Homo sapiens: one gene and its partners. The protein of the gene in region 7 purifies or fractionates together with the protein of the main gene of each other region. This does not show direct contact. Each region holds a gene or a part of one and is shown on either strand. Other genes may lie near its edges.

What was found.
Region 1: the proteins of CEP290 (region 7) and CDK5RAP2 purify together in Homo sapiens (co-immunoprecipitation; one large-scale study listed by IntAct). This does not show direct contact.
Region 2: the proteins of CEP290 (region 7) and CCDC13 purify together in Homo sapiens (co-immunoprecipitation; one study listed by IntAct). This does not show direct contact.
Region 3: the proteins of CEP290 (region 7) and CEP72 purify together in Homo sapiens (affinity purification with mass spectrometry; one large-scale study listed by BioGRID and IntAct). This does not show direct contact.
Region 4: the proteins of CEP290 (region 7) and CNKSR2 purify together in Homo sapiens (affinity purification with western blotting; one study listed by BioGRID). This does not show direct contact.
Region 5: the proteins of CEP290 (region 7) and CEP97 purify together in Homo sapiens (co-immunoprecipitation; 4 studies listed by BioGRID and IntAct, with this or other methods). This does not show direct contact.
Region 6: the proteins of CEP290 (region 7) and ECH1 purify together in Homo sapiens (affinity purification with mass spectrometry; one large-scale study listed by BioGRID and IntAct). This does not show direct contact.

Annotation. Positions count from the first base shown.
Region 1 is NC_000009.12:120,404,633-120,409,167, reverse strand, and holds part of CDK5RAP2 (CDK5 regulatory subunit-associated protein 2), read left to right. Parts: coding exon 1-41; intron 42-699; coding exon 700-821; intron 822-1,919; coding exon 1,920-2,156; intron 2,157-4,535. UniProt on the Homo sapiens protein: Potential regulator of CDK5 activity via its interaction with CDK5R1. Negative regulator of centriole disengagement (licensing) which maintains centriole engagement and cohesion. Involved in regulation of mitotic spindle orientation.
Region 2 is NC_000003.12:42,706,580-42,711,114, forward strand, and holds part of CCDC13 (coiled-coil domain-containing protein 13), read right to left. Parts: intron 3,220-4,535; coding exon 3,105-3,219; intron 2,561-3,104; coding exon 2,401-2,560; 3' UTR 1-2,400. UniProt on the Homo sapiens protein: Required for primary cilia formation and promotes the localization of the ciliopathy protein BBS4 to both centriolar satellites and cilia.
Region 3 is NC_000005.10:632,354-636,888, forward strand, and holds part of CEP72 (centrosomal protein of 72 kDa), read left to right. Parts: intron 1-1,415; coding exon 1,416-1,594; intron 1,595-3,018; coding exon 3,019-3,231; intron 3,232-4,535. UniProt on the Homo sapiens protein: Involved in the recruitment of key centrosomal proteins to the centrosome.
Region 4 is NC_000023.11:21,611,918-21,615,417, forward strand, and holds part of CNKSR2 (connector enhancer of kinase suppressor of ras 2), read left to right. Parts: intron 1-3,500.
Region 5 is NC_000003.12:101,751,495-101,756,029, reverse strand, and holds part of CEP97 (centrosomal protein of 97 kDa), read right to left. Parts: intron 601-4,535; coding exon 436-600; intron 1-435. UniProt on the Homo sapiens protein: Acts as a key negative regulator of ciliogenesis in collaboration with CCP110 by capping the mother centriole thereby preventing cilia formation. Required for recruitment of CCP110 to the centrosome.
Region 6 is NC_000019.10:38,817,929-38,822,399, reverse strand, and holds part of ECH1 (delta(3,5)-Delta(2,4)-dienoyl-CoA isomerase, mitochondrial precursor), read left to right. Parts: intron 1-4,471. UniProt on the Homo sapiens protein: Isomerization of 3-trans,5-cis-dienoyl-CoA to 2-trans,4-trans-dienoyl-CoA.
Region 7 is NC_000012.12:88,075,343-88,079,877, reverse strand, and holds part of CEP290 (centrosomal protein of 290 kDa), read left to right. Parts: intron 1-648; coding exon 649-786; intron 787-1,959; coding exon 1,960-2,181; intron 2,182-2,533; coding exon 2,534-2,656; intron 2,657-4,535. UniProt on the Homo sapiens protein: Involved in early and late steps in cilia formation. Its association with CCP110 is required for inhibition of primary cilia formation by CCP110.

The DNA of each region.
Region 1 (4,535 bases), on a different chromosome or scaffold from region 7:
CTGATCCAGGAGGTCCGCTGCAGCGGCCAGGAGCTGAGCAGGTAGTGGCTGTGCTTCCCTGGTGGCCTGCTGGCCGTACCACGCATGCAGGCACTGGGCTGCAGTCGTGGAATCAGCACGCAGGCCTCTGCCTTAGTGCACAGTGGCAGGCAGTAGACACAAACACATTGTACGTCTGGTGCGCCTACAACATATGGAGAAAGATCCTGTAAGGAGGAGAGGGCTTGGCAGTGGGTTGCTGTTTTTTGTCAAGGGTGAGTCAGGGAAGGCCTTTGTGAAAAGATGCCATTTGCTCAGAGAGCTGAATGCAGTGAGGAGGTGAGTGCTGCAGCTACCTGGGAAAGATCATTTCAGGCAGAATGGGCGCAGGCCCTGAGGCAAAGTGGCTTAGGCCTGTGCCGGACAGAGCAGGGCAGTGTATCTGGAGAGGGGGCTGGCAGGATACCAAATCACATCGGGCTGCAGAGTCAGTGTGAGGACTTTGGGTTTTCCTCTGAGTGGCATGGGAAGCCACTGGGAGATTCTGAGCAGAGGAGTGGAATTAGGATTAGAGAGCACATGGAATTCTTAACCATGCTTGTCACTTCTTGGTCCACACTCTTGTGACTGAGGGTGGAATTGGCCTGCTCTGTGGGGTTTGAATAAGTTACCCTGAGGTAGAATTAACCTGTCCTTCTCATGCCTGTGGGGCCTTCTCAGGGTGCAGGAGGAGGTGAAGTTGAGGCAGCAGCTGCTCTCACAGAATGACAAGCTATTGCAGTCTCTCCGAGTGGAGCTGAAGGCGTATGAGAAGCTGGATGAAGAGCACAGGAGACTGAGAGGTACTGAGGCCCTTCTCACCTTGAGGCTACTGTGCTTTGGGCTGTAAGACCACCCGACAGCTGGCTGTAGGCACAGGAGGGCAGAGCTCAGCCCTCTCCACTCTGGCCTTGTGGGTAGAGTGGATGGGTGTTGAAGCTAGCTCTTTGACCCACTCTTCTTCTGAAGGAACAGCAGGAAACATAGAAGGACTGAGGCTCAGCACCCAGGCCAGCCGAGGTCCGGGTTCCCACTCACTTGTTCCCAGCTATGTGACCCTCAGTAGGCCACTTCACCCTTTGAGCCCATACCTATCTCTGTAAAACATGTCTCTCAGCACCTGTTGTGTGGAGAATTGTGTTGAAAATTGAATGAGACCATTTATTAAAAGCATCCTAGCAAGATACCTGACACATAGTAGGCACCCAGGAAATGACCTTTATTATAATCGTCCTGCTAGTATATGTTACTTTTTGCCCACTCATTCAGCAAACATTTATGGACACCTCTCACGTGCTGGGCATTGCTCTGGGGATGGTTGTTGGCCTCGTTGCTCTCTGTATCCCAGGAGAGATACCAGCTCAGAGTGCTTCAACTATAACGTCTAATGTTTCAGAATCAATTTTGAGGTGTGGTGAGGTGTTTTTTTTTTTTTTTTATTTTACTAATTTTCCAGATGGTTTCTCTCTATTGAAAGTTTATCTAGAAAGGGGTCATCTCACAGCTTTTATTTTCTCCTCAACTTGCTTTTTTTATTCTTGCTGTTGTGTCTTTTTAATATAGTGTGGCTCTTAAAATCATCCCCTTTCATTCTATAATTCTAGCCCAAATAGATTTTATTACTACTAGACATAATTTCGGGGTTTGGTGTGCAATTTGCTAGGCTTTTATGGCCAGAAGCGAAAATTAATTTCCAGCTCTTATTTAGCGTGTGGAATAGCAGCAATTAAGTCTGCCAATATTTTTGTTTCTAAAGTCAAGTTGTTATTTTAAACTGTACCTAGTTCTTAGGAAGGGGGAGGGCGATGGTGGTGGTGAGTGTAAAATGCGATTGAGTTCCTTCGATGGCTGACCCTTTGGTTGTGGAAGATGTCAGGGCTTCTCTTTGCACATGTCCTCAGAGGCGTCGGGAGAAGGCTGGAAGGGGCAGGATCCTTTCAGGGACCTGCACAGCCTCCTGATGGAGATCCAGGCTCTGCGCTTGCAACTAGAAAGGAGCATCGAAACCAGCAGCACTCTGCAGAGCAGGCTCAAGGAACAGCTGGCAAGGGGGGCAGAGAAGGCACAGGAAGGAGCCCTCACTCTGGCTGTCCAAGCCGTGTCCATCCCTGAGGTGCCCCTTCAGCCTGACAAACACGGTACTGCCCCTGCCTCTCCCCACTTGCTGAGAATGCAGCTCTGAGCATCTGTGTGTGACATGTGAACTTCTGAATGATGCCTTTGCCCCACAGAGGTGTCTTTCCATTGATAGCTGACATGCTGTACCCTAGGAGCCAGGGGACCTGACTGCTAATTAATTAGCGGTCACCTTGGGCAAAGTGGCGTAATCTCCATCTGAGGCATCTTGATTCTCAGGGAAGTGGAATTTGGACTTCCAGACACCCTCAGTGCCTCTGGCCTTGCTCCCTCCTATCCATTTAGTCCTGCCTGCATCACTTTGATGCTGAAATTTCTTTTAGTTTCTCTTACTGCCTTTAGAAGGGAACCTAAACATCTTAATCTGGCTTTCAGTGTCTTTCAGGATCTGAAAATCATCCTGATAGGTTTAAAAAGTGGATCTGTTTTGCATTTGTGTGCAGGTTAATTGCCTAGCCCTGGAGAGGCTGTGGGGGGTACGAGAAAGAGGACCAGACACCTCTACCACCCGCCCACCCAGGGTGTGGAGCAAACCAGTAAATGGTTAGACTCCAAGCAATCAGGCAGCCTGTCCTCTTTGCTCTAGAGATGAAAAACAAAGGCCCAGAGAGTGGATGGGGCTTGCCCAAAGTGGCACAGCAAGTAGGCAGCAGAGCTGGAGCTAGAAACCATTTCCAGCTTCGAGTCCAGGGCTGTTCCTAAACCCCACTGGACTCTCTGGAGCGTTGGGTATCCTGGGATTATCATCCTGACACCCATAGGGTAAATGTGTGTATCCAGTGGGATGAGGAATGCCAGCCTGCTTTACAAGCAAGTATTGTACTAAAGTTTGGACTGACTTTTACTTGGATACCTCTAGTTAAAAAAATAAAAATAAATCTCTTAAGGAGCACCTGGTCAGTCCGCTCGTAGTGATTAGTTCATTGATTTCTCATTGACAAGGATCTTAAAATTTAATCAAAAAGATGATGTAATAATATGAAAAAAGTGAACAGAGAAAAAAAGTTCATGATTCTACACATTGATCATTTTTTAAAATTTGCATATTTTTTCATTTATTAAATATGAGCATGAATTTATATTTTTCAAATTGGATTTTGTGTCATTGTGTGTCCTTTCTTTGTTTTTGCCCAATATTACATCATACATGTTCCCTGTGCTTTCACATGGGCTTCCTAATGATTGTTTGCAGGCTATTCTCAGTCACCAATCCATGACCCCGTTGATTTATTAAAGTGGTCTCTGATTTGGAGCCATAATAGACATCAATGTTAATATGCTTTTTGCTGTTAAATAATATTCTTAGGAGAAAACCCTACAAGGGGAACCTCATAAGTTTGGAAAGGTGCCATATTGCCACCTTCTAAATAGTCTGTACATCAGCAGTGTACAAAGGTAGTGGTTTTTGTGTGACCTCAGCATTGGGCATTACTATTTTCAACACGGGTCTGCACCTGGCCCTTTTTAAGGCTTTGAGGAGATGGGATTCAGGAACTTGTGGGGTAGGCTAGGGGAGTTTGAAGCAGGGAGAACAGTTCTGTGCTTGGGGTACCCAGGAAGGAGAGTTGGGTAGCTGAAGTGAGGAGGCCATCAAACAGCCTTTACCTGCTTTTGAAATTTGCCGAAAGCAGCCCTCATCATGCCTGGCAAGAGGCATCCAGGAGAGCATTCAGAATTCACAGTGCTGCCTCAGCAGAAAAGTTTTATAATTTCCTTGAGTCAAGATCAGAATTATAGGCAGCAGCATTTCTTCCTTTGCAAAAGACTTCTCAGGTCTGTATTTAAGTGCATCTGTTTTAAAAATTCTGTTCTAAAGGCTGATGTCTTTCACTGAGAGTGATTCCTCTTGGGGCCAGCTCTATGGAGCTGACCTCCTGGCTCCTTGGCCTTAGGAACTGTAGCACACCCCTGGGAAATGCTGGAGTGCAGTCAGCCCACCGCCCAGTGGTGCAGGAGCTCGGAAGGGGGATCCTAAGCCCTAGGCTTCCTTGCTCTGTGCCACTGACATGCTGGGTTATGCTGGACAGATCACTTTCTATCTCTGCCCCTTGGTCTCCCCTTCCATGAAATCTGAATTACAGTGTGTTTTGCCCACTGAGCTATTGAGTCCAATAGCTTTTCATATGTGAAAGTGCTTTCCAAATTATAACGTGTTGCACAGGTCATCTGTACAGCATCTATTGGTTTTGCCTCCTTACAGTGTTGCAAATACATCACCCCCCAGATCCTATTGTGGGTTACTCTCATCTCTAGCTTAGGTTAGTGTGGCAGCCTCCAGACTTACTCTTTCAGTACAAAATACAGACCTCAGCTTGACATTGCCTTGCCCAAAGCCCTTGAGTGGGCCCCTCAGTCCTCTTGGTTCTGGCCTTGCATTCTAC
Region 2 (4,535 bases), on a different chromosome or scaffold from region 7:
TGAAACACTCATCTTTATATACAGAGTTGGCCAAAGCAAGACACCAGCAAATCAGTTTACCCAAAAATGTGCAAACAAGATTTCCTGTGCCTGCCTGTCTGCAGTTTTTCTTTCCCCTCTCTCTTATATAACTCTTGTTGAAATCAGTCTATAGATACATGTTCCTTGTACAGAAATAAACAGAGAGCTAATAATTAGTGAAACGTCTTTGGGTTATTCTTTGACATACATATTAATAACAGCCCCCTGAGGGAGGATTCTATTATTGTCTGCATTTTATAGATGAGAATGTGGAGGATCAGAGAGGTTAAATAACTTGCCCAAGGCCACACAGCTGGTAAGTGGGGAGAGAAGTATGCCCCAGGCAGCCCCACCTGTCCAGACTCCATGACCTAATGCTCCTTCCTTTCTCAGGCATAGCCCAGGAAGGGCAGCAGAACCACCCTGAAGTGGCTGGAGTGTGGGTCACACCATCTCTGCACTTCCCTGAGGTGATCTTGAGGAAGGATGGCTGATCCTATGCCTGCTTCTCACTCCCTGGGACTGCACTGAGGCCAGAGCCTGTACCCCTCATACTCAGATCACCCTCTGGAGCTCCTCAGGGCCTGCAGGAGAAGGTGCTGACTCCTCTGTGTTCAGACTCTACATCCAGCCCACCCCTCGCTGTCACACACTGTCCCCTCCAAGCACAGACCCTCTCTCTCCTGGCTCTCTGCCTGGCCGTTTTCCTTCACAAGGAACCAGAGAAAAACTCTTCCTTCCCAGAGACCCTTAGGACCCCACCAGAATCATCAGTTCATCCCGGTGGCCTTTGCTCTAACTTGCTGTGGGATCTCTAGATCCGTGTGACCCCATGCAGGGTCAGGGGCTCCCTGAGGAGTGGGGGCCAGCTAGGGTCCCTCCATAGCCCCATCCCCAAGGAAGGGGCTGAGAAGACAGGGTCCCAGGAGCCGCAGTGGCTTTTCCAAGGAAGGAGCTGACAAGATGCTCGCAGGAGCCCCAGTGGCTTTTCCTGGGGAAGGGGGTGTTTTCACAGTATGTGCACCTGCATTTGTGCATCACTGCACAAGCAACACACAAGTGGCTATGTCTTCACGTGTGGGAATGTGTGTCCACATCCACATGTGTGTGCTCATCTGCACCTGTGTGTCCATGAGTGTGCACACATGGAGGTGCCTGTGTGCACGTACAGTTGCATGCTCCTGAATTGAGGTATGTGTGTGCATCTGCATCTTTGTGTGGGGCTGTGGGTGCACCTGTGTGGCCAGGGTGTCGGAGTTGGGGTGTGTGGCTATGAGTGACCCTCCTTGGGGCCACTCCTTCCTGTAGCTATAAGTGCATAGTTACAGCTGAGAAAGGGCAACACTGACAGTCATAGAGGCCTGCGGATCTTAGGGTGCCCCTGCAGCATCCCTCCAAGTTCACCATGGCGAGGGAGGTGCACTGTACCTTTGACTGGAGCCACTACCTCAAAACCCTTCTGCCTGAAGCTCCAGCTGAGCCCCACCTCGGCCCTCTGCCACCAGCATCCATCAGCAGTCTTGGTGAGCAAACAAAGATGCCTCTTGGAGCTGCTGCCTAGGGGTGGGGTTGTTCAGTGGTGGGTGGGTGCGCCTACCCTGGGTAATCTCTGAACGGCAAGACCCTGGTTTTGGGGTCAGGCAGACTGCAGTTAAATATTAGCTCAGCTTCTTTCTGTGAACCTCAGTTTCTTCATCTGTCAAATAAGACAACAAACCCCTGGGTCATTAGAGGACTGAATGGGGTCAGGTTGCCACAGTAGATGCTCACTCACTGGGAGCTGCAGTGATTATGAAAATACTTATTATTATTACAAGTCCAAGGGTCTGCACCTGAGGAAGTGTCCTGAGGAGTGGGCTGACAAACTGGTTGAGAGCATAGTGCCCCAAGTCTGTGTAGGGTGTGGACGGCTACAGATGGAGCCGGGATGGGGGTGAGGGGATAGGGCAGGGCTGAGTGGCATGGGGGATATGCCCACTTAGGGTAACCAAGGGCTCTTCTGTGTGTGAAGCCATGGGGACATCCAGGGCTAGTACCTAGGATGAGGGCGATGAACACCTGCCCGAGGGACTGCATCTGTCCATTCACAGCCGCCTTGCCATCCCAGAGCTCTCGCCTCTGCCAGTGGGCTGCTGGGCCTCCCTGCTGCTGTAACCCAGCCAGCCCAGGGTCTCCTGCAGTGTCCCACCAGGGCTTCTCTTCTGCCTTCCTGGCCTGAGACATTGGTTTTGGTCATCCTTAAGGAGCCTCTTCTGGTAGAAGTGGTTGAGCTGGCTGCCCTGGGCTGGCTTCCCGGAGCAGATGGAGTCCTCAGACAGAGTCTTATCCTCTCAAGACCTGAGGCTGCCCACCCGGCCAGGCCGACACTGGGCTGTCATCCTATTGCTTGCCTGTCTTCTGCTGCCGCAGGGCCTGCAGGAAGACACTTTTCACCTGGCCCAGGATCTCATGGTACATCCGGAAGTCCTCCTCCTTTCCCCGCAGGGCACTGCCCAGGGCAGCCTTTAGCATTTCATTCTCCTCCACCTGGATGGCCAGCCTGGACCACAGGAGACAGTGCTCAGTGTGGCTGGAGCTGCACACAGGTGTGCGTGGGTGACAGAGGGCCCTGGGAATGTGGTTGCCAGCATGGCTGCTCTTCAGGCTCAGGCTTCCCTCTGACCCATCCCCTCCTCTCACTGACTCTTGTGGGTACCATGGATTCCTCTCTATGGGCCTGGCTCCCTGCAATGTAAGCTACCTCAAGGCCCCTTACAAATTGAGTTCCAATTTGTAGAGGTTCCCGTCTTTCCCTTCCCATGGCTGCGTGGGGTCTTAAAAGGTTTAACGTAGTGAGAAACTGGTTCAGTGATCCATGCTTGATAAAATTTCTCTTGGACTATGGGTCATTGGGGTTTGGGCCGGGCCCTCTGTCCTCTGAAGGCCAGTCCCTGAATTGCAGGCCTAGAACCCAGGACCAAACAGGACAAGCCTTCTGGGCAAATGAGTCAAAAGTGCAAGGGGAGGGACACAGTCCCTCTGCCCATGGAGGCACCTCTGCTCAGACAACCCTACCCTTTCAGGAAGGCGGGGCAGGGGAGCACCTGGTTGTCAGCTCTTCCATTTGGGATTCCACGGGCACATCGGAGAGCTGGGCAAAGGATGGGTCCTTCTTCTCGCTCCCGGTTGGGTTGTGCCTGTTGTTAGAGGTGGGCAGACCTGTGGGGCAGCAGCAACCACTTTCTGTGAGGAGGCCACAGCCCTGTGCTAGCACCCTGCTTCTCCTCCCGCCATTGCCCACTGCCTGCTCTTCCACATGGTGAAACGCTACACCGCCTTCGGGGTGCAGGGCAACTCTGAGCTCTGCCTCCCTCCGAAGCCCTCCCTGATGCCTCCTCTGCATGCCTCTGCCCCTGGCTTTGGCCTCTGCTACAGCCCTGACTCTGCTCGCTTTGTACCAGGGTGGTTCCTCACCACCCTGTCTCCATCTTTATACTTTACAAGTTTCTGGTAATTTGTTTTCTTTTTTTTTTCTTTTTTTTTTTTTTGAGACAGAGTCTTGCTCTGTCACCCAGACTGGAGTGCAGTAGCGTGATCTCAGCTCACAGCAATCTGCGCCTCCAGGGTTCAAGCGATTCTTGTGCCTCCCGAGTAGCTGGGACAACAGGTGCCTGTCACCATGCCCAGCTAATTATTGTATTTTTTGCAGAGACAGGGTTTTATCATGTTGGCTAGGCCTCCCAAAGTGCCAGGATTACAGGCGTAAACCACCATGCCCAGCCTGGTAATTTGTTTTCAAAAAGAGAAACCAGCTGAGCCTGAGGTCTGGCCTGCAGGCTGAGCCCGAGTCTAGACTGTCACTGTACCTGATGCCCTCATACCAGTGGTCCCCATCCAGGCCATCAGCTTCATACTAGGAAGCAGGGGATCCAGGGTCCTGGAGTTGAAGGGTACAGAATGTTCACAAAAAGGAGACAAAGTGGCCCACGGTGGGGTGGTCCCAGAACTTTGGGAGGCCAAGTGGGGGCAGATTGCTTGAGGTCAGGAGTTCAAGACCAGTCTGGCCAACACGGTGAAACCCTGTCTCTACTAAAAATACATAAAAATTAGCCAGGCATGGAGGCATGCACCTCAAGACTAGTCTTGTGTAAACCTGTCTCATTGCTGGGGAGGCAGCAGAGTGGCTCTGCCCTCTACAGGGGCTGGACTGAGTGTTCTTCAGGGCCTTTCCTGGCTCCAGGGGACACTGCTAAGCTGCCCTTGGCTTATTCCACGCATTGAGCACCTCCACATCCCCAACTAGAGCTGCCCTGGATGGGAAACTGCTTGTTCAGCCTGATGGAATTTTCTAAGCCCTGTGACACAGGGAATCAAAAAGAGCCTCAGCCGGGTGCGGTGGCTCATGCCTATAATCCCAGCACTTTGGGAGGTCTAGGGGGGTGGATAATTTGAGGTCAGGAGTTCAAGACCAGCCCGGCCAACATGGTAAAACACCATCATTACTAAAAATACATAAATTAGCAGGGTGTGGTGGC
Region 3 (4,535 bases), on a different chromosome or scaffold from region 7:
TGGTGGGGTGCTGTCCAGTGCCGGGATTTAGACCAGTCCTGGTGGGGTTCTGTCCAGTGCTGGGATTTGACCCAGTCCTGGTGGGGTTCTGTCCAGTGCCGGGATTTGGCCCAGTCCTGGTGGGGTTCTGTCCAGCGCCGGGATTTGGCCCAGTCCTGGTGGGGTTCTGTCCAGCGCCGGGATTTGGCCCAGTCCTGGTGGGGTTCTGTCCAGTGCCGGGATTTGACCCAGTCCTGGTGGGGTTCTGTCCAGTGCCGGGATTTGGCCCAGTCCTGGTGGGGTTCTGTCCAGTGCCGGGATTTAGACCAGTCCTGGTGGGGTTCTGTCCAGTGCCGGGATTTGACCCAGTCCTGGTGGGGTTCTATCCAGTGCCGGGATTTGGCCCAGTCCTGGTGGGGTTCTATCCAGTGCCGGGATTTGACCCAGTCCTGGTGGGGTTCTGTCCAGCGCCGGGATTTGGCCCAGTCCTGGTGGGGTTCTGTCCAGCGCCGGGATTTGGACCAGTCCTGGTGGGGTTCTGTCCAGTGCCGGGATTTGGACCAGTTCTGGTGGGGTTCTGTCCAGTGCCGGGATTTGGACCAGTTCTGGTGGGGTTCTGTCCAGTGCCGGGATTTAGACCAGTCCTGGTGGGGTTCTGTCCAGTGCCGGGATTTGGCCCAGTCCTGGTGGGGTTCTGTCCAGTGCCGGGATTTAGACCAGTCCTGGTGGGGTTCTGTCCAGTGCCGGGATTTGACCCAGTCCTGGTGGGGTGCTGTCCAGTGCCGGGATTTAGACCAGTCCTGGTGGGGTTCTGTCCAGTGCCGGGATTTGGCCCAGTCCTGGTGGGGTTCTGTCCAGTGCCGGGATTTAGACCAGTCCTGGTGGGGTTCTGTCCAGTGCTGGATTTGACCCAGTCCTGGTGGGGTGCTGTCCAGTTCCGGGATTTAGACCAGTCCTGGTGGGGTTCTGTTCAGTGCCGGGATTTGGCCCAGTCCTGGTGGGGTTCTGTCCAGTGCCAGGATTTAGTCCCGTCCTGGTGGGGTTCTGTCCAGTGCTGGATTTGACCCAGTCCTGGTGGGGTGCTGTCCAGTGCCGGGATTTAGACCAGTCCTGGTGGGGTTCTGTTCAGTGCCGGGGTTTGGCCCAGTCCTGGTGGGGTTCTGTCCAGTGCTGGGATTTGGCCCAGTCCTGGTGGGGTTCTGTCCAGTGCCGGGATGCTGTCATGTTATCACGTAACCTGGCTGTTGCTCACCGATTGTCCTTGGTGAGTCACTCTTTAGCATCACTGCAGTGGAAGCAACAGGACCCGGCTGCCCCACGTTTGCAGCACGCTGCTTCTCTCAGAGACCGTGCAGGAATTTTCCTTCTCCTGGTCTGCGTGGGCCGGAGCATATGGCTGGCTTGAGTGATGCTGATGAGTTTGCTTTTCCTTACAGACCACACCACCCCAGAGCCAAGTGCACCGAGGCCTTGGCCAAGCAGAGCCTGGTCATGGATGCGGATGACGAGGCAGTCCTGAACCTCATTGCAGAGTGCGAGTGGGACCTCGGCAGGCCTCCCGGGAGCACGAGCTTCAGCCAGAAGGGGCGTGAGGCCGACTCTCGTGGTTCCCAAGGTGCGCTGCTCATCTGCCAGGAGGCCAGTGGGTCCGCTGGCTCTGGGATATATATAGTCGTTACTGGGCTTGGAGTCCACAGTTGCTCTTTTTGTGGAACTTACCTTGAAGGATAGGATCTTCATGATGTGTCTTTGTGTGCTTTCGAATGCCAGCCATTTGGACTACAGAGTTATAAATGAGAAAGTTAACATATTTGAGTATAGTCATACTGCATGATGGTTTAAATTGTATCCTTCTGAGATCACAGGAAAAGGCAAACTGTCTAAAACAGACAAGAAGCCTAGTGTCCTGTGGCAAGTGGGGCTGACATCTGCGGCAGCTGCAGGGGGGCATAGTCACCGAACTTGCAGGAAACCCTGAGCTCAGGCCGCCACGTGCAGACCTGTAGATCCCAGCAAGGGTGTCTCGGAGACTCCGTTGCCCGGTGGCACTGCCCTCCACTGGGATGTGCTGATGGGCTTTAGCTTCATTTATTCCACCTCCGCTGTGAGTTTCTGAGAACTTTTCGTGGAAACAACAGGTGGAGACCTGAGTTTGGGCTGAAATCTTAGGTTCATCTGTGCAAAGATGTCTGCCCTGTGGCAGCGGTGCTCGAGCCATGTCCTTGCCGGCACTGGGAGCTGAGTCCTTTAATCCTAGCTGCTCTGTCAGGGGGTTGTGGTCTGTGTTTATGGCTTTAATTTGCATCCGCTGCTGTTGAGATACTGGCCGTGCCTGTCTCTTCTTTTCTCTCCAGGTCTGCCCACCTTTGTTCTGGGGTTGCTTCTCTTAGTATTGAGTCCTAAGAGATCTTGGTGGTTTTGACACAGGCCCTTTCTCAGGCACAAGGGCTGCCCATTTCCTCCCTTCTGTGGCTGGCCTTTTCATTATCTGAACAGTGCTTTGAAGAGCACAAGTTTTAATTTCATTACAGTCCAGTTTATGAAGGGCACAGTTTATTTTGTTTTTTGTTTTGTTTATTTTGAGATGGAGTTTTGCTCTGCCGCCCAGGCTGGAGTGCAGTGGCGCAATCTTGGCTTGCTGCAGCCTTTGCCTCCCGGGTTCAAGTGATTCTCCTGCCTCAGCCTCCCAAGTAGCTGGGACTACAGGCGCCCACCACCACACCCAGCTAATTTTGTATTGAGACTGTCTGGACTCTCTCTTCTGTTTTGTGCATCATTTTGTCTGACTTTGCTCCACTTCATGCGGCTGGATTCTTGCAGCCTTGTCCTGAGTCTCGCAGGCGAGTGGCGCCAGTTCCCAGTTCCAAGCTCTCTTGCTGTTAGAAGTCACTGTGGATTCATTTCAGTGTCACCCAGCACGTGATTAACCCCTCGGTCTAACAGATACCATACACTATTCAGAAGCTTAAAATGTAATTTTTGATGGAATAAAACTTTTACAATGTTTTATGAAATATTTTATTTACAATATTTTAATAGAATCCAGACATCTGTTGAGCCCGCAGTTGGTACAGTACCAGTGTGGGGACTCTGGGAAGCAGGGCCGTGAGACGAGGAGGAGCAGCTGCAGAGGGTGCTGTCTGGAGAAGATGCCTTGGAGCCAGCTCTGTGGAGAGCTTCCGCCACTGTACGGAGCGGAGCCAGAGGCCTCCCGTGCCCCCAGGCCACACACGTACTTCACCCCACACCCAGGTACTTACGCGTGTCTTAGTCTGTTTTCTGTTGCTGTAACAGAAAACCACAGACTGAGTAATTTATAAAGAACAGAAGCTTATGTGGCTCATGGTTCTGGAGGCTGGGAAGTCCAAGAGCACGGTGCCGGCACCTGGTGCTGGTCCTCCCATGGCACAGGCAGAAGCATGGTGCAGGCAGAAGCAAGCTCAAGACAGAGAAATGGAGCTAGACTCATCCTTTATCGGGAACCCAGCCCTGCGCTACAGCATTCCTGCCTCCCTGCGGGCTGGCCCTGTGACCTGTTCCAGACTCATCCTTTATCAGGAACCCAGCCCTGCGATACAGCATTCCCGCCTCCCTGAGGGTTGGCCCTGTGACCTGTTCCAGACTCATCCTTTATCAGGAACCCAGCCCTGTGCTACAGCATTCCTGCCTCCCTGAGGGCTGGCCCTGTGACCTGTTCACCTCTTAAAGGCCCTCCGCTTAATACTGTTAGAGTGGCAATAAGTTTCCAGCTTAGGAACTTTGGGGGGTTCCTTCGAACTACAGCAACATGAAATCCCTGTCAACTTTTACTCCCTTCAGTTCCTTTTTAAGTAGTTAAATATTTTTCACATCGTTTGCTTTTACTATGAAATTTCTCCTGTTCTCTGTGTATTTATTTGTTTGTGGAACTCTCCAAAATGTCTTTGGAAAGAATGCAGCACATTGAAATTTATAATCCATTCATGGTTTAGATTCATGGTTGGTAAATAAGTGCTTTTTCTCTGCACGTGTGTGTGTGCACACCCTCCCTCACCCTCTCACTAATGCACACACACTTTTAAGTGTATGGGCCCAGGTTATGGCAATAGCTACATTTTGAAAATCAAAGGCGAGAAAAGTTAACCAAGAGTGTCACGTGATACCATGTGATGGCCACCTATGTGGCATAAGTATCAGAAAACCTCCTGCCGTGAGCAGGCCAGACACGGTGGCTCACGCCTATAATCCCAATATTTTGGGAGGCCGAGGCAGGCGGATCATTTGAGGTCAGGAGTTTAAGACCAGCCTGGCCAACATGGTGAAACCAGGTCTCTACTAAATATACAAAAATATCTGGGCATGGTGGCGGGCACCTATAGTCCCAGCTACTCAGGAGGCTGAGGCATGAGAATCGCTTGAACCTGGGAGGTGGAGGTTGCAATGAGCCTAGATGGCATCACTACACTCCAGCCTGGGCAATAGAGCAAGACTCCAACTCAAAAAAAAAAAAAAAAAAGAAAAAGAGAAACCTTGTCTCGCGTGACCCTGGCGCCTCCTGGAAGCTTGCTCATGCCCAA
Region 4 (3,500 bases), on a different chromosome or scaffold from region 7:
CTGGGTATTTTTTCCATAAATCTTGCCACTTGATTTCTCCGTGTACTTCAAACTGTTCGTAACAGAGTAGTGCATTCATCCTTTCCTGGAAGATGCTTATTATTCAATGAAATGTATGTTTGTTCTAATGATGGTTTTCTGCATTGCTATTTCTAATATTTAGGAGTGGGCAATTTGATGAACACCTTATTCAGGAAACATCAGCTTTAAAAACCAGTGTTTTCAAAAGAATCTTTAAGGTCTAGTTATGGGATGTCATGTTCATGGCTTCCCTGGATTGACCATTAGGAGTAAGTACTCAGGCTGCTTGTTCAAATCAAGCTGTCTGGTGTTATGTCAGCAGAGCAAAAATTATACACGGAAACGAAGCTGTGGCCATTACATCAGCCTTAACGTCCTGTACATGTCCTCCAACACAGAGCGCTTACTGTGCTGCCACACAGTTCAGCAGGCAACCTGTGCTTTTAAAAATCAAAGTCCAACAGCAGTGTGTTACTTACTGTCCTGCTCCAGGCCAGCATTCAGTTTGACCTCCTGAAGTGAATTGTAGTCATCAAGTACAGAACTGCAGAGGAAATAAGTTTAATGTCTAGTTCCAAACGTTTTTCTCAGTTTGCCAAGAAATTAAAAATAGGAAGTATCAGGTGGCCAAAAGAAATAATGGAAGAAAACATGAAAATATAGTCTGTCATATGCTTTAAGGGTGAAGAATTATGTCATCAACCAAACCTCTTTCTTATCATTTACGTTTTATCTTACCTTATATCACAATATATGTTATATAGTGCTTATGAGCTTACAGAGCAATCTAAGAAGCAAGATATACCTAAATCCATGCCTTAGCTGTTTTTCATTTTCCTTATGGGTATGGAATTTGGCCCTGCTTATAAAGTATATATTTAGCCTTCCTTAGAACAGACTTCAATCTGTGTTCTCGTAGTTGAACTACCTTTTGCCTTATTTTGAAATTCAATTATTTAACTGAGTCATACTGTGATTTTCTTAGGCTGAACTCATTTTAGTCTGAAATGGATGGTACTAAAAGTACACAAATGAGACCTGTCTTGTTTTCCTTTGACTGAAAAGTCAGCTTGCATATTAATTGTCTTGACCTGCTTCACTGACATTTGAGAAAAGACAAGTAATTTCCTGTTATCCCAATTAGCAGTTTCAAACCTTACCTGGTATGGACATTATAAGACATCAGCTAAATTAACTTACAAATTATGTCATTCTATGCACCTTTAAAGGAATATAAATTATGAAAGTATGGGACAAAATATGAAGATATATTTCATTCAGAAATAATCTGCCATAACATTAAAATACTATTTTGGTTAATACAGCTTGAAGTCAGCTTAGAAAATCTCGCTTTCCTTTGCCGTATGTACTAGCCAATTCAGATGAGGTTTTGAAAACCATTATCCCTTAATCCTGCTGATTTTCCCCTAAGCAATTATAAGGGAACTCTCCTGGACTCTTGATGCCTTCATTTACTCGGTGAAGTCATGATGTCCTTTATCATTGTCTTGAAGATTACCTACCAGTATTCTCACTTAATTTACACGTATATGTAGCTTGGGCTTAGAAATCTAAAGCAAAACCTAGGTCTTTTAAGGGGGAATAAAATCTATTACCTTGGAGCCACTGTACACATTAGATTATCAGGCTGAAATATTATTGACACTTTCAAAATGAGATCTGCTGAGAAATATATTTTAAGGTTATTTTTAAAAATCTAGACTGAGTTTTGTGGCTCACGCCTGTAATCCCAGCACTTTGGGAGGCCAAGGCGGAGGATCACTTGAGGTCAGGAATTTGAAACCAGCCTGGCCAACATGGCAAAACCCTGTCTCTACGAAAAATACAAAAATTAGCCAGGCGTGGTGGCACATACCTGTAATCCCAGCTACTAGGTGGCTGAGACGGGAGAATTGCTTGAACCCGGGAGGTGGAGGTTGCAGTGAGCCAAGATCATGCCACTGCACTCCAGCCTGGATGACAGAGCAAGACTCTGTCTCCAAAAAAAAAAAAAAGAAAGAAAGAAAAAAAATTAGCCGGTCTTATAACCTGCTCTATAAATAAACAAAATAAATAAATAAATAAGTAAAAAATCTAACATTCTTTGTACACTATTAATAACTTAGGAGCTGTGTAGAATATGCCACTCAGTAGCCTAAAATCTTAAATTATTAGGGCATAGGGGCTAGATTATGAGTACAAATACAGAGCAGAAGATACATTAATTCTTGTCAATCATTTTAAGGGTCCTATCTTCATTTCCTGAAGATTTTCTAAAGGTCATGAATTCTATTTTTAAGAACATTAAAGTAGGAGATATGTAGACAAGGAGAAGGTATTCCCAGAATATGAAATTGTATTGAAGGAAGAAAAGGAACAAGTTGAAAATAAAAATGTTGCAACACTTCTCACTTTTTTATTATCAAGATAAATTATATACACACACAAATAATTTTAAAGAGCATAATCATCATTAATATCTTAAGTTATAGTTCATGTCTAAAGGGAGTAGATGGAGAAGGATATACACAGTGTGAAGAAAAAGACATGATAAAGTCAAAGAAAAAATGGCAGAGAACCTTAACTATATCACTTTTGTAAAGTTGAGCACACCATCCTTGGCTGATTATATAACAAATATGTATTTAAAAAAAACAGAAAAACCTAGAAAGTAGTGAGAAAATTATTTTAATATATTGTCTGATTTTGAAGAAATACTGTTAGGGAGACATAAAACACTGAAGATTAGCTATAATTCTGATACTGGTTATAGGTTAGATTTTTAATTACACCTCCATTTTTTGGCTAAAAAAATGAGAGAAAGTTATTAACTTACAGGAAGTTCAGAGGTGGGGTTGTTCTGGGGTGAATTTCATGGCTTACCAATGTCAGGACTCTCCATTCATTTTTCTGTAATGCAAGAGCTCCAAGCATCATTTCTCATGAGACAGCATTCAAAAAGCCAAAGACCAGGCCCTATCTTTAGTCCTTTCTATAAGACCAAGGGAAACTTTCCATGGATCCTTCCAGCAGACTTATACCCAGATTTCATTGCCAAGGTTGCATCACATGTGCATGCCTAAACAAATGACAAGGGAAATGGAATGATATGAACAGTTTAGACTAACCTTGATTTGTTTTTATGGTGATGAGAAAGAGAAATGTGCAAAACTGCTTATCATTACTTTCTGCATGAGCAGCTCTATTACTGTGTATGTTTTGTCTTCAAATTATATTTGTTCAAGCAGTGTTTCACTTTTTAAATATATATATGCACATGCATAGCCCAGATCACATCACCTTACTTAAAAATTTTGGCTCTATTGAAATGTTAGATATATAAATGAAGTAATAAGTATTATGTAACCCTGAAAATGTAGCAAGTTTGATATAATTATTGTTGCTCATGGAATGAATAAGCATGTTTTCCTATAGACAATAAGTAATCCTAGCTTAGAATACAGTCTCTGGAGATATTC
Region 5 (4,535 bases), on a different chromosome or scaffold from region 7:
CTGGTGTAGTAGCTCATACCTATTATCCTAGCACTTTAGGAGGCCGAAGCAGGAGAACTGCTTGAAGCCAAGAGTTTAAAATCAGACTGAGGAACAAAGTGAGACCTCATCTCTACAAAAAATTAGCCAACCATGGTGGCATGCACCTGTAGTTGCAACTGCAGTGACCTATGACTGCACTGCTGTACTCACAGACCAAGAGACCAAGACCCTGTCTTTAAAACAAAAAAACCCCTCTATTCCTCCATACCATATTGTTTGGCTGTTTGCAGTGCACGATTCAGCTTCCCTGCAGGAACTGTTGCAGTGACAAGGGGACTGAGTGTCCAGAAATGTGGGCCGCAGCACTTGCCTCAGGCTTACTATCACCATAGCAAAGACTCAGAGGTATTTTAACTTGTGAATTCATCAGTTGTTAGAAATAAATGGGCTTACCTCTGTTTGCTCAAAATCTTCTCTAGTTTGGCATCCTCTGCAGTTTGAAGACCTAGTGTAGAAGTGAGGGGGCAGACTGTAGCCAGATATTGGACAAGCTGGATGTGCTGGCCAGGCCGATATGCTCTCCCCTTGCCTTGACTATAGAGCCATTCAGCTTTCAAACTGGAATTGGGGAACATAAAAAAGAGGAGATGGCATGAGAATAGTCAACACACATTGTCAGGCAACAATGATCTTCCTTGTTAACTTACCTTTATAGCACCATTGTATGTTTTTCATAAATAAAATTCACTCAATTTTTTTAAAAAATCTATCATTCTGACTCATATTCACCATTCTAATAATGTTTCAAACCCTTTTTCTTGCTTAGGGGCACTTCCATTGAGCTTGGACTAATGGTGCCAAATATTTTTAAATCATTTTCAAGGAAGCAATGAGTATTCTCCCCATTCATTCTGTCACACTGAAATGCCTAAATAGATGAACTGCATTTGAATCCATTAGTTCATAATGACAGTTAAAAGAAAAAAAAAAACTAGCCGGGCATGGTGGCATGTGTAATCTCAGCTACTCAGGAGTTGGGGTGGGAGGATCACTTGAGGTCAGGTGTGTGAGGCTATAGTGCGCTATAATCATACCTGTCAACCTTATAGTCCACCAACCTTATAGTCCACCCCTCAAAAAAAAAAAAAAAATCAAACCTGAATCTGAACAAACATCCATATCCAATTTACAGAAAATACAAAAGGGAGAGGAATATGTCAAAGGACACAGGGATGTAGTTGGTAAAATGAGCAGATAATGGGAAACTCTATAGGACAAATACTCTGACTTCTTCAACTACAACCAAAAGAAAGAAAGAAAAGCAAGGGAGAGAGAGAGAAAAGAAAGCAAAGAAAATAGAACAAAGACAGATAGATTGAGAGATTCAAGAGAGTCATCTTGGACATCTAGCCAAGTTAAGCCTTCGGATGACTCTAGCCCCATCTGTGATCTGAGTGCAAGCCCAGGAGGCCCCAAGAAAGAACTGCTCAGTCAGCACAGCAAATCTACAGAGTATGCCATAATAATATACTGCTGCTTTAAGACACTAAACAGAGTAAGAAAGAAACTTAAGAAATGTATCAACCAAATGTGACATAAGGCTGTAATTATTTGAATTCTGTTTCTAAGATACAAAATTCATTTATAAGGATTGAAAATATAAGACTGAATATCTGATATTAGGGCACTTGGTTAATTTTTTTTAAGATGTGATAATAGCATTGTGGTTGTTTCTTTAAGAGTTCTTCTCTTTAGAGACATATACTGAAATACTAACAGGTGAAATGATATGTAATCTGAGATCCGCTTCAAAATAGTACAGAAGAAGGGAGAGTGAGTGAAGGTATAAGATGAAGCAAGGGCCAGGTATGGTGGCTTATGCTTGTAATCCCAGCACTTTGTGGGGCTGCGGTGGGAGGATTGCTTGAGCCCAGGAGTTTGAAGCCAGCCTGGACAACAAAGCAAGACTCTTGTTTCTTAAAAAAAAAAAAAAAAAAAAAAAAAAGATGGCCAAATAGGAACAGCTCCGGTCTACAGCTCCCAGCATGAGCGATGCAGAAGATGGGTGATTTCTGCATTTCCATCTGAGGTACCGGGTTCATCCCACTAGGGAGTGCCAGACGGTGGGCAGAGGACAGTGGGTGCAGCGCACCGTGCGCAAGCCGAAGCAGGGCGAGGCATTGCCTCACTCAGGAAGCGCAAGGGGTCAGGGAGTTCCCTTTCCTAGTCAAAGAAAGGGGTGACAGATGGCACCTGGAAAATCGGGTCACTCCCACCCTAATACTGCGCTTTTCCAACGGGCTTAAAAAACGGTGCACCAGGAGATTATATCCCGCACCTGGCTCGGAGGGTCCTACGCCCACGGAGTCTCACTGATTGCTAGCACAGCACTCTGAGATCAAACTGCAAGGCAGCAGCAAGGCTGGGGGAGGGGCGCCCGCCATTGCCCAGGCTCGCTTAGGTAAACAAAGCAGCCGGAAGCCCGAACTGGGTGGAGCCCACCACAGCTCAAGGAGGCCTGCCTGCCTCTGTAGGCTCCACCTCTGGGGGCAGGGCACAGACAAACAAAAAGACAGCAGTAACCTCTGCAGACTTAACTGTCCCTGTCTGACAGCTTTGAAGAGAGCAGTGGTTCTCCCAGCACCCAGCTGGAGATCTGAGAACGGGCAGACTGCCTCCTCAAGTGGGTCCCTGACCCCTGACCCCTGACCCCTGAGCAGCCTAACTGGGAGGCACCCCCCAGTAGGGGCAGACTGACACCTCACACAGCCGGGTACTCCTCTGAGACAAAACTTCCAGAGGAACAATCAGACAGCAGCATTCCCAGTTCACGAAAATCTGTTGTTCTGCAGCCACCACTGCTGTTACCCAGGCAAACAGGGTCTGGAGTGGACCTCTAGCAAACTCCAACAGACCTGCAGCTGAGGGTCCTGTCTGTTAGAAGGAAAACTAACAAACACAAAGGACATCCACACCAAAAACCCATCTGTACATCACCATCATCGAAGACCAAAAGTAGATAAAACCACAAAGATGGGGAAAAAACAGAGCAGAAAAACTGGAAACTCTAAAAACCAGAGCACCTCTCCTCCTCCAAAGGAATGCAGTTCCTCACCAGCAACGGAACAAAGCTGGACGGAGAATGACTTTGACGAGCTGAGAGAAGAAGGCTTCAGAAGATCAAACTACTCCGAGCTACAGGAGGAAATTGAAACCAAAGGCAAAGAAGTTAAAAACTTTGAAAAAAATTTAGACGAATGTATAACTAGAATAATCAATACAGAGAAGTGCTTAAAGGAGCTGATGGAGCTGAAAGCCAAGGCTCGAGAACTACGTGAAGAATGCAGAAGACTCAGGAGCCGATGCGATCAACTGGAAGAAAGGGTATCAGTGATGGAAGATGAAATGAATGAAATGAAGCGAGAAGGGAAGTTTACAGAAAAAAGAATAAAAAGAAACGAACAAAGCCTCCAAGAAATAGGGACTATGTGAAAAGACCAAATCTAGGTCTGATTAGTGTACCTGAAAGTGACAGGGAGAATGGAACCAAGTTGGAAAACACTCTGCAAGATATTATCCAGGAGAACTTCCCCAATCTAGCAAGGCAGGCCAACATTCAGATTCAGGAAATACAGAGAACGCCACAAAGATACTCCTTGAGAAGAGCAACTCCAAGACACATAATTGTCAGATTCACCAAAGTTGAAATGAAGGAAAAAATGTTAAGGGCAGCCAGAGAGAAAGGTCGGGTTACCCACAAAGGGAAGCCCATCAGACTAACAGCGGATCTCTCGGCAGAAACTCTACAAGCCAGAAGAGAGTGGGGGCCAATAATATTCAACATTCTTAAAGAAAAGAATTTCAACCCAGAATTTCATATCCAGGCATACTAAGCTTCATAAGTGAAGGAGAAATAAAATCCTTTACAGACAAGCAAATGCTGAGAGATTTTGTCACCACCAGGCCTGCCCTAAAAGAGGTCCTGAAGGAAGCACTAAACATGGAAAGGAACAAGCGATACCAGCCACTGCAAAATCATGCCAAATTGTAAAGACCATCAAGGCTAGGAAGCAAAATAAACAGCTAACATCATAATGACAGGATCAAATTCACACATAACAATATTAACTTTAAATGTAAATGGACTAAATGCTCCAATTAAAAGACACAGACTGGCAAATTGGATAAAAAGTCAAGACCCATCAGTGTGCTGTATTCAGGAAACCCATCTCACGTGCAGAGACACACATAGGCTCAAAATAAAAGGATGGAGGAAGATCTACCAAGCAAATGGAAAACAAAAAAAGGCAGGGGTTGCAATCCTAGTCTCCGATAAAACAGACTTTAACCAACAAAGATCAAAAGAGACAAAGAAGGTCATTACATAATGGTAAAGGGATCAATTCAACAAGAAGAGCTAACTATCCTAAATATATATGCACCAAATACAGGAGCACCCAGATTCATAAAGCAAGTCTTTAGTGACCTACAAAGAGACTTAGACTCCCACACAATAATAATGGGAGACTTTAACACCCCACTGTCAACATTAG
Region 6 (4,471 bases), on a different chromosome or scaffold from region 7:
CACAGAGTGCTGATTGGTTGTTTACAATCCCTTAGCTAGACATAAAGAGTCTCCAAGTCCCCACCAGATTAGCTAGATACAGAGTGCTGATTGGTGCATTTACAAACCTTGAGCTAGACACAGGGTGCTGATTGGTGCATTTACAAACCTTGAGCTAGACACAGAGTGCTGATTGGTTGTTTACAATCCCTTAGCTAGACATAAAGTTTCTCCAAGTCCCCACCAGATGAGCTAGACACAGAGCATTGATTGGTGCATTTACAAACCTTGAGCTAGACACAGGGTGCTGATTGGTGCATTTACAAACCTTGAGCTAGAAACAGAGTGCTGATTGGTGTATTTACAATCCCTTAGCTAGACATAAACGTTCTCCAAGTCCCCACCAGATTAGCTAGATACAGAGTGCTGATTGGTGCATTTACAGTCCCTCAGCTAGACATAAATGTTCTCCAAATCCCCACTAGACTCAGGAGCTCAGCTGGCTTCACCCAGTGGATCCTGCACCAGGGCCGCAGGCGGAGCACTCCTCAGCCCTTGGGCAGTTGATGGGACCAGGCGCCGCCGAGCAGGGGGTGGCGCTCCTCGGGGAGGCTCGGGCTGTGCAGGAGCCCACGGCGGCGGGGGGAGGCTCGGGCATGGCAGGCTGCAGGTCCCAAGCCCTGCCCCACAGGGAGGCAGCTGAGGCCCGGCAAGTATTCGAGTGCAGCACCAGCGGGCCGGCACTGCTGGGGGACCCGGTGTACCCTCCGCAGCTGCTGGCCCAGGTGCTAAGCCCCTCACTGCTCAGGGCAGGTGGCGCCGGCCCACCACTCCGAGTGCGGGGTCGCCGAGCTCACACCCACCCGGAACTTGCGCTGGCCGGAGAGCACTGCGTGCAGCCTGGGTTCCCGCCCGCGCCTCTCCCTCCACACCTCCCTGCAAGCAGAGGGAGCCGGCTCCGATCTTGGCCAGCCCAGAGAGGGGCTCCCATAGTGCAGCAGCAGGCTGAAGGGCTCCTCAAGCATGGCCAGAGTGGGCTCTGAGGCCAGCGAGCAAGGGCTGCCAGCATGCTGTCACCTCTCACTTCCTTCTCTCTCTCTTTCTTTCATTTTTGAGACAGGGTCTCCCTCTGTCACCCAGGCTGGAATGCAGTGGAGCAATCTCAGCTCACTGCAGCCTCCACCTCCTGAGCTCAACCCCTCCCACCTCAGCCCCTACCACCTCCCCTCATCCTCCCACTTCAGCCCCTCAAGTAGCTGGGACCACAGGTGTGCACCACCATGCACAGCAAGTTTTTTCACTTTTTGTAGAGGCAGGGCTTGCTATGTTGCCCAGGCTGGTCTCGAACCCCTGATCTAAAGCGATCCTCCTGCCTCAGCCTCCCAAAGTGCTGGGATCACAGGCATGAGCCACCGCACCCAGCCTCCTGCTTTCTTTCTGCATCTCCCTCTGTTCCTCCTCTTGTTCATTTGTTCATTCATTTGACAAACATTCAGTGACACAGTCCAGTGCCAGAGCCCCCTCCTGGGTGCTGCAGATGTGGAAACGGGAAGCAGCCCCGATTCCTGACCCCTTGCTCTCATAGAGATCATGTCTGAGAACAGAAAAATGGGGCTTTTTTGTGGCTGTGCCGGGCCCAGGTCCTTCATCTTTCAGCTCCCAGCTGAATGTGGCCGTCTTATCTTATTTTCAGCAGCAAGACCCCGAAGGCCAGAAGGAAGAAACGGCAGGTCATGCAGTGACCCAGTGATAGAGTAGAACTACTAATTAGAGAAAGAAAAAGGTGGCCACAATTATGTAGCACTCATGGTGTGTGACGCCCCTTTCTAAGCACGTTAAACATATTAATTCTAATCACAGTCCACAAGACAGGTTCTGCTATAAGCCCCATTTAAAGGTGAAACAGATCCAGAGAGCAAGAAACTTACCCAATAATCACAGCTTGTAAGTGGCAGAGCTGGGATTTTGGAACTCATGCTGCCTGGCTATAGAGTCCTTGCTCTTAGCTGCTAAATGTCTGTCATCTGAGTAGCTGGCATGCTGGTTAAAAGTAAGGGGGATTGCCGGGCGCCGTGGCTCACACCTGTAATCCCAGCACTTTGGGAGGCTGAGGCAGGCGGATCACGAGGTCAGGAAATGGAGACTATCCTGGCTAACACAGTGAAACCCCGTCTCTACTAAAAATGTAAAAAATTAGCCGGGCATGGTGGCAGGCGCCTGTAGTCCCAGCTACTAGGGAGGCTGAGGCAGGAGAATGGCGTGAACCCAGGAGGCGGAGCTTGCAGTGAGCCGAGATCGCGCCACTACACGCCAGCCTGGGCGATAGAGTGAGACTACATCTCAAAAAAAAAAAAAAAAAAAAAAAAAGTAAGGGGGACTTTGGCCTCAGGCTGTGATCTGGATCCTATTTCCACTTGTCTTTTCACCTCTCTGTCCTGCCATTTTCTTTTCTTTTTATTTTTTATTTTTGAGCCAGGGTCTTGCTCTGTCGCCCAGGCTGGAGTGCAGTGGCGCGATCATAGCTGACCGCAGCCTGCAACTCCTGGGCTCAAACGATCCGCCCACCTCAGCCTCCGAAAGTGCTGGGATTACAGGTGACCATGCCCAGCCTCATGTGCAGCTAATTTTTTCATTGTTTGTAGAGAAGAGGTCTTGCAATGTTGCCCAGGCTGTTCTCAAAATCTTAGCCTCAAGCCATCCTCCTGCCTCTGCCTTCCAAAGTGCTGGGATTGCAGGTGTGAGCCACTACGCCCAGCCCCAAAATATACTTTTTTATTCATTTGTTTGCCTCCCCATGAGGACAGGGACTGTTGTCTGTATTGATCATTTATTGAGCAGCTCGTGTGCGCCAGGCCCTGTGCTAGGCCCAGGGGATGCAGCAGTGGACAGAAAGACAAAAACTCCTGTGTTCTCAGAGCTCACATTCTAGAAAGGGAGTCAGACCCTCAAGCAGATAAGGACCTAATTATAGGATAGCAGCTGTGCAGCCCGGAGGTAAGGCGGGGTCAGGATGCGGGGGATGGGGCCATCGTTGAGCCAGGTTGGCCAGGGAGGGCCTCTCTAGGAGGTGACCTTTGAGCTATAGCTGAAGGAAGTGAAGGAGTCAGTCTGTGGCTGTTGAAGAGGGAGGGATGGTTGTCAGCCCAAAGGTCCTTGGCTCCCTCCCTCTCCTCTGGGTCTTTACTCAAGGTCACCTTCTCAATGAGAAGATTCTGTACCACTGCACAGCCCTCAGGCAGTGATCTGGATCCTATTTCCACTTGTCTTTTCACCTCTCTGTCCTGCCATTTTCTTTTCTTTTTATTTTTTATTTTTGAGCCAGGGTCTTGCTCTGTCGCCCAGGCTGGAGTGCAGTGGTGCGATCATAGCTGACCGCAGCCTCCAACTCCTGGGCTCAAATGCACGTGCCCGCACACACACACACACACACACACACACACACAGAGTTGGAGACCAGTGTGCCCAAAGTAACAGGTTGGGAACAGTGCACACACACACACACACACACACACACACACAGAGTTGGAGGCCAGTGTGCCCAAAGTAACAGGTTGGGAACAGTGTTCATGCAGGGTAGTCATGACAAGGACGTTCCATTTTGTTCTAAGAGCCACAGGTGGGAAAAAGAGGGTCTGGGCCGGGCACGGTGGCTCACGCCTGTAATCCCAGCACTTTGGGAGGCCGAGGTGGGTGGATCACAAGGTCAGGAGTTTGAGACTAGCCTGGCCAACATGGCAAAACCCCGTCTCTACTAAAAATACAAAAATTAGCCGGGCATGGTGGTGGGCGCCTGTAATCCCAGCTACTTGGGAGGCTGAGGTAGGAGAATCACTTGAACCGGGAGGCGGAGGTTGCATTGAGCCGAGATCCTGCCACTGCACTCCAGCCTGGGCGACAAGAGCGAGACTCTGTCTGAAATAAAAAAAATAAAATAAAAAAAAAGAGGATCTGACCCAAGAAGGTGTCCACTGGCTTCCCCTGGCTGCCTGTAGGGAATAGACTGGGGACACAGGTGGAAACAGGGAGAGCAGGGTGGGCTCATGGAGAACAACTGATGCAGGAAAGGTCAGATTCAGGATCATCTTGAAGTTGGAGCCACAGAAATTGCTGCATCGTGAGATGTTTCTCATCTCAGGAAACATCACCACCATTGACTGCATTGCTCACGCTGCAGACCTTGAGTCCCAGGCTGTCTGGCATCTTGGGGAAAAGCATGGCCTCTGGAGCCAGCTGCATGGTTCCAGATTTTAAAATCCTACTTCTGATGCGGCATGGTGGCTCACACGTGTAATCCCAGTGCTTTGGGATGCCAAGGTGGGAGGATCGCTTGAGCCCAGGAGTTCAAGAGCAGCCTCGGCACAGTCCCAGCCACTCAGGAGGCTGAGGTGGGAGGATTGCTTGAACCTGGGAGTTCGAGGCTGCAGTGAGCCATGATCGTGCCACTGCACTCTAGCTGGTATAACAGAGTGAGACCCTGTCTCTAAAAACATTA
Region 7 (4,535 bases):
CTACTGGAATTTTATGCTACTGAGGCTATTTTTAACAAATGAACAATTTTGAACAATTTGAGGGATTGAGGGAAGTATGATAATGACAAAAAGGGATGAAAAAAGGGGGTCATAGAGATGTTTTTGTGAGAAGGAGTTGGTCAGTGTATTCTGATTTATTAGGGTTTTTTTTAGTTTATCTCAGATTTGATCTATTTAAATTGTTTTAGAAGATGCTGGTGTTTTTCTGTGCTAGCTATGAAATTTATGGGTAAACTTTAAGCCTTTCCTAGTCCTTTTGTTGTCTACCTAAATTCAATTAATTTCATATGGAAGGATGTAGTAAGTGAGTAATATAAATATCTAAAATTGGATGTTTGAAAACAAAACATACCTGTTTTTTGTAATAGCTTGATTTAATGCTGAGTTCTCAAAATCATTATTAAGATTTTGAACTTTCACATTCAATGTGGAAAGAATTGAGTGTAATTACAAAAGATTTATTTGAAAAAGTTGAGTTGTTAATTTGTGAAATATGTTCCATTAAACTCATAATATTTTAGAAAAATAGTAGGAAGTAATAAAGCTTGTTTATTTTTTATATCATATATTCATATAAAATGTCAGTTTTCCTTTAAAAATTACATTTTTTTTTTGGTTAATTTTTAGGCACTTAGTCGGGCACTTTTAGAACTCCGGGCAGAAATGACAGCAGCTGCTGAAGAACGTATTATTTCTGCAACTTCTCAAAAAGAGGCCCATCTCAATGTTCAACAAATCGTTGATCGACATACTAGAGAGCTAAAGGTGAACATCAACACGTGTTAATGTAACAAAATTTCTGATAATTCCTATTGGAAGAGAATTCACTATGATATATAGTAATTTTGTTGATGAATAGGGAATTTATAATGCACTGTTGGTGGCTAGACATAGACACACACATGCATTTTTCAACAATAAGTCTCTTTATGATACTCATTTACTGATTATCATCTTGGGGATTAGGAAAGGATAGGCCATTATGAACTACTGTTTCTAATGAAATTAAATTTAAGAAATATTTTACTTAGGATTTTTTTTAAGACTTTATTATTTTTTTAGAGCAATTTTAGGTTCACAGCAAAATTGAGAGGAAGGTACAGAGATTTCCTGTATATCTCCTACCCTGAAAGTGGTACATTTGTTAAAATTGATGAACCTATATTGATACATCATAATCACCCAAAGTCCAAGTTTACCTCTATTTTAGCTCTTGGTATTTTACACTCTGTGTGTTTAGACAAATGTATAATGATATGTATCCATCATTATAGTATTATACAGGGTATTTTCACTGCCCTAAAAATCTTCTGTGCCTCTCTTCTTCATTCCTTCCTCTGCACCTCACCAAACCCCTGGCAACCAGTGATCTTTTTACTGTCTCCATAGTTTCACCTTTTCCAGAATATGTTATAGATGGAAACATACAGTGTGTCCCCATCATTCTCACCATAGGACAGCTAGGAACTCCTTTCTAGTGGCATACATATTGTCTAGTATTGTAAGTTACCCTTTTATATCTTATCTTTGTAAACTAGGTTAGAAATTACTTCAAGTCAGAGATTTGTTCTGTACTACTCTTATGCTTCATAGTGTTTAAAACGTTGTCATATATATTGTTATATACTTGTTTGTTTAATTAATTCAGCCAAAATGAAACGTGCATATTTGATAAAATTTTGTTTGTGGGTGTTTGTTGAAGATGAATTGCTTTACACTAGTTTTTTTTTTTTTTCTCAAAGTCGACTTTTTTCCTCAAGGTAGACTTGACATGAATATGGAAAAATATATGTAGTTTGTGGTTATTTTTTTTCTCTTGTGTACTTAAAAATTCAGACTGAATTTTTCTTATAATGGTATATTTTCTGTTTTATGTTCCTTTTATCATTGATACTTCTTGAAGAGTCATGAATAATACCTTTCTTTTTCTCTTATTAGACACAAGTTGAAGATTTAAATGAAAATCTTTTAAAATTGAAAGAAGCACTTAAAACAAGTAAAAACAGAGAAAACTCACTAACTGATAATTTGAATGACTTAAATAATGAACTGCAAAAGAAACAAAAAGCCTATAATAAAATACTTAGAGAGAAAGAGGAAATTGATCAAGAGAATGATGAACTGAAAAGGCAAATTAAAAGACTAACCAGTGGATTACAGGTAATTTTATATTTAACTCTGATAATGTCTGATTTACAATATAGAGGTAGTAGTTTATTTCTACTTTATCATTTTATCTATGGTATTTGTTAAAACTGACTTTCAAATCACTTTGATTAATGTAATTAATTTCTTTTGTGACTTCTATTGTGTTTATAGTTCTAGAGTAGCATATTAGTATGTTGTATTAAAATGCAGAAGCAGCTACCAGATTATCTTATGTATTAAGTGTCATTTAGAAAGTATGGTCAGTGATAGCTTCAGAAAGTTGCTATTATATAATTGAAATATTTACTGTCTATTTTGTTTTACATTTATTTGTAAAAATATAAAGTTACATTTTATTTTTTAGGGCAAACCCCTGACAGATAATAAACAAAGTCTAATTGAAGAACTCCAAAGGAAAGTTAAAAAACTAGAGAACCAATTAGAGGGAAAGGTGGAGGAAGTAGACCTAAAACCTATGAAAGAAAAGGTATGTGAAGAAACATACTGACTTATATGCTTAAGGTAGTGACAGAGTAAGTTAAATACATAGCTGATTAACAGTTAATATACTGCCTTAATTTGATGACCTGGCTGTATTAATTCTGTATTAATTTTGAGGACTATAAGCAGTATTGAATAACGTAGAAAAGTCTAAGTTTCTGTTCTGTAGGAATTTAGAGTCTACTTGAGGAGATACCTATAATGTAACTCTTATTTGGAAATTACTACATCAATTTCATTCATCTTTCTGACATTAGAGTACCTCTGAAGTTCCTTCACACCTTAACATATTCAACTGTGTATCATTTCTCTCCAAAGTAATCATTTACACAGGTTGGTGCTTTTGACTTTTGGGACAGAAAGATAGACATTTTAAGATACCCCACTTTGACCCAAATAGGTCCTTTTTAATCCTTCAGGAGACTAGGCTGTTATTTCAGATAGCAAAGTTATTTGGAATATCTTCAGTATTTGCAGTAATAATCAGTAACCAATCTGCTCATAGATTAATTCTGTGGGAGAAATTGCTTAAAATTTTATAGTTCATAGTAAACTGTTTTGTAATAAAAATTACTGATTGAAATAACCCCAAAAAAAACTAAAATTGGCTAAAATGCGTGTAATTAAATTTGTTATGGACAATAAATTGGAGATAACTTGTTGGTAACATTCAAAATATCGAAAGTGAACTGGGAAATGTTGATGTTAGCAGTAATATTTGCCATTGAAGAAAATCAGTATGGAGGAGCTATGGTTAGGAAAATTTTTATTATAAAATTTACCCAGAAAATATTTAATGTCTATAAAATAATTTCAATCACATGAAAATGGAAAAGAAAATTCTGTCTTTAAAGGCATTGAATAGAAAATAGGTAATGGAATTCAAATTTCTTAATAGAGTATGCTCCCAAAATTATTTTCTATGAAAATTCATTAATGTCAGTGTAATTTATTGACACTATTTGCGTGGAGTCACAACATGCTTGCTGTCAGAAGCTTTGCTGGTGAAAACTGTAAGATCAAAGTGTCCTTAATCTTTTGGATTTCCATCTTTCTAACTCCCTAATTGGGGATAGGCCTGATCTTATCCCTAAATGGGGATAGGTTAGAAACTGGTATGTTTGTTCCTAACTGGTGTGTTTCTATACCAGTTTCTAACCTGATTCCTATCAGAATGTTTTAAGAGCCTTGTGGCTTTGCCTGGACTCTTCTATGCTACAGTTTATTTAGTTTATTTATTCAGTTTATTCCTCCTTAAAGTGGGAATAATACTATCTGTATTGCCAGTTTCTCAGGATTATTTTACATAAAATGATATGATATGCGGAAGTCTTTTGTAAGCCATCACATCCATAGCAGTATAAGATATTACTACTAACTAGAAAGAGAAAACAGGGGTCTATGCCCAGTATTAAAATTGGCATTCAGGAATCTAGTGAGAATATTTTTTCAGGTTCATTGCTTGGGCATTTCTAATTTATACTCAAGAAATGCTTTCATATTGTTTGGAAATTTTAGTACCCTTTTCTCTGTAAACAGAATTTGTAGTCTACCTATGTAACAAAACCCACCCCTGTGCCTTGCATTTCATTCTCCTTAGCATTTATTACTATCTTAACATACTAGACATGTACTTGTCTTTTGTTCATCTTTTTTTTTTCTTTTTTTATTAGACCATAAACTTTGATGGCAGGAACTTTGCCTATTTTATTTATTATTGTATTCCCAGCACCTAGAACAATCGCTGGCACATAGTAGATGCTCAGTATTTGTTGAATGAATATAAATTTTTAAATGTTATAATAATATTATTCTGAAATCTATGCATACGAAGCTTTTGGTACAGAAAACATGAAAAGAGAACT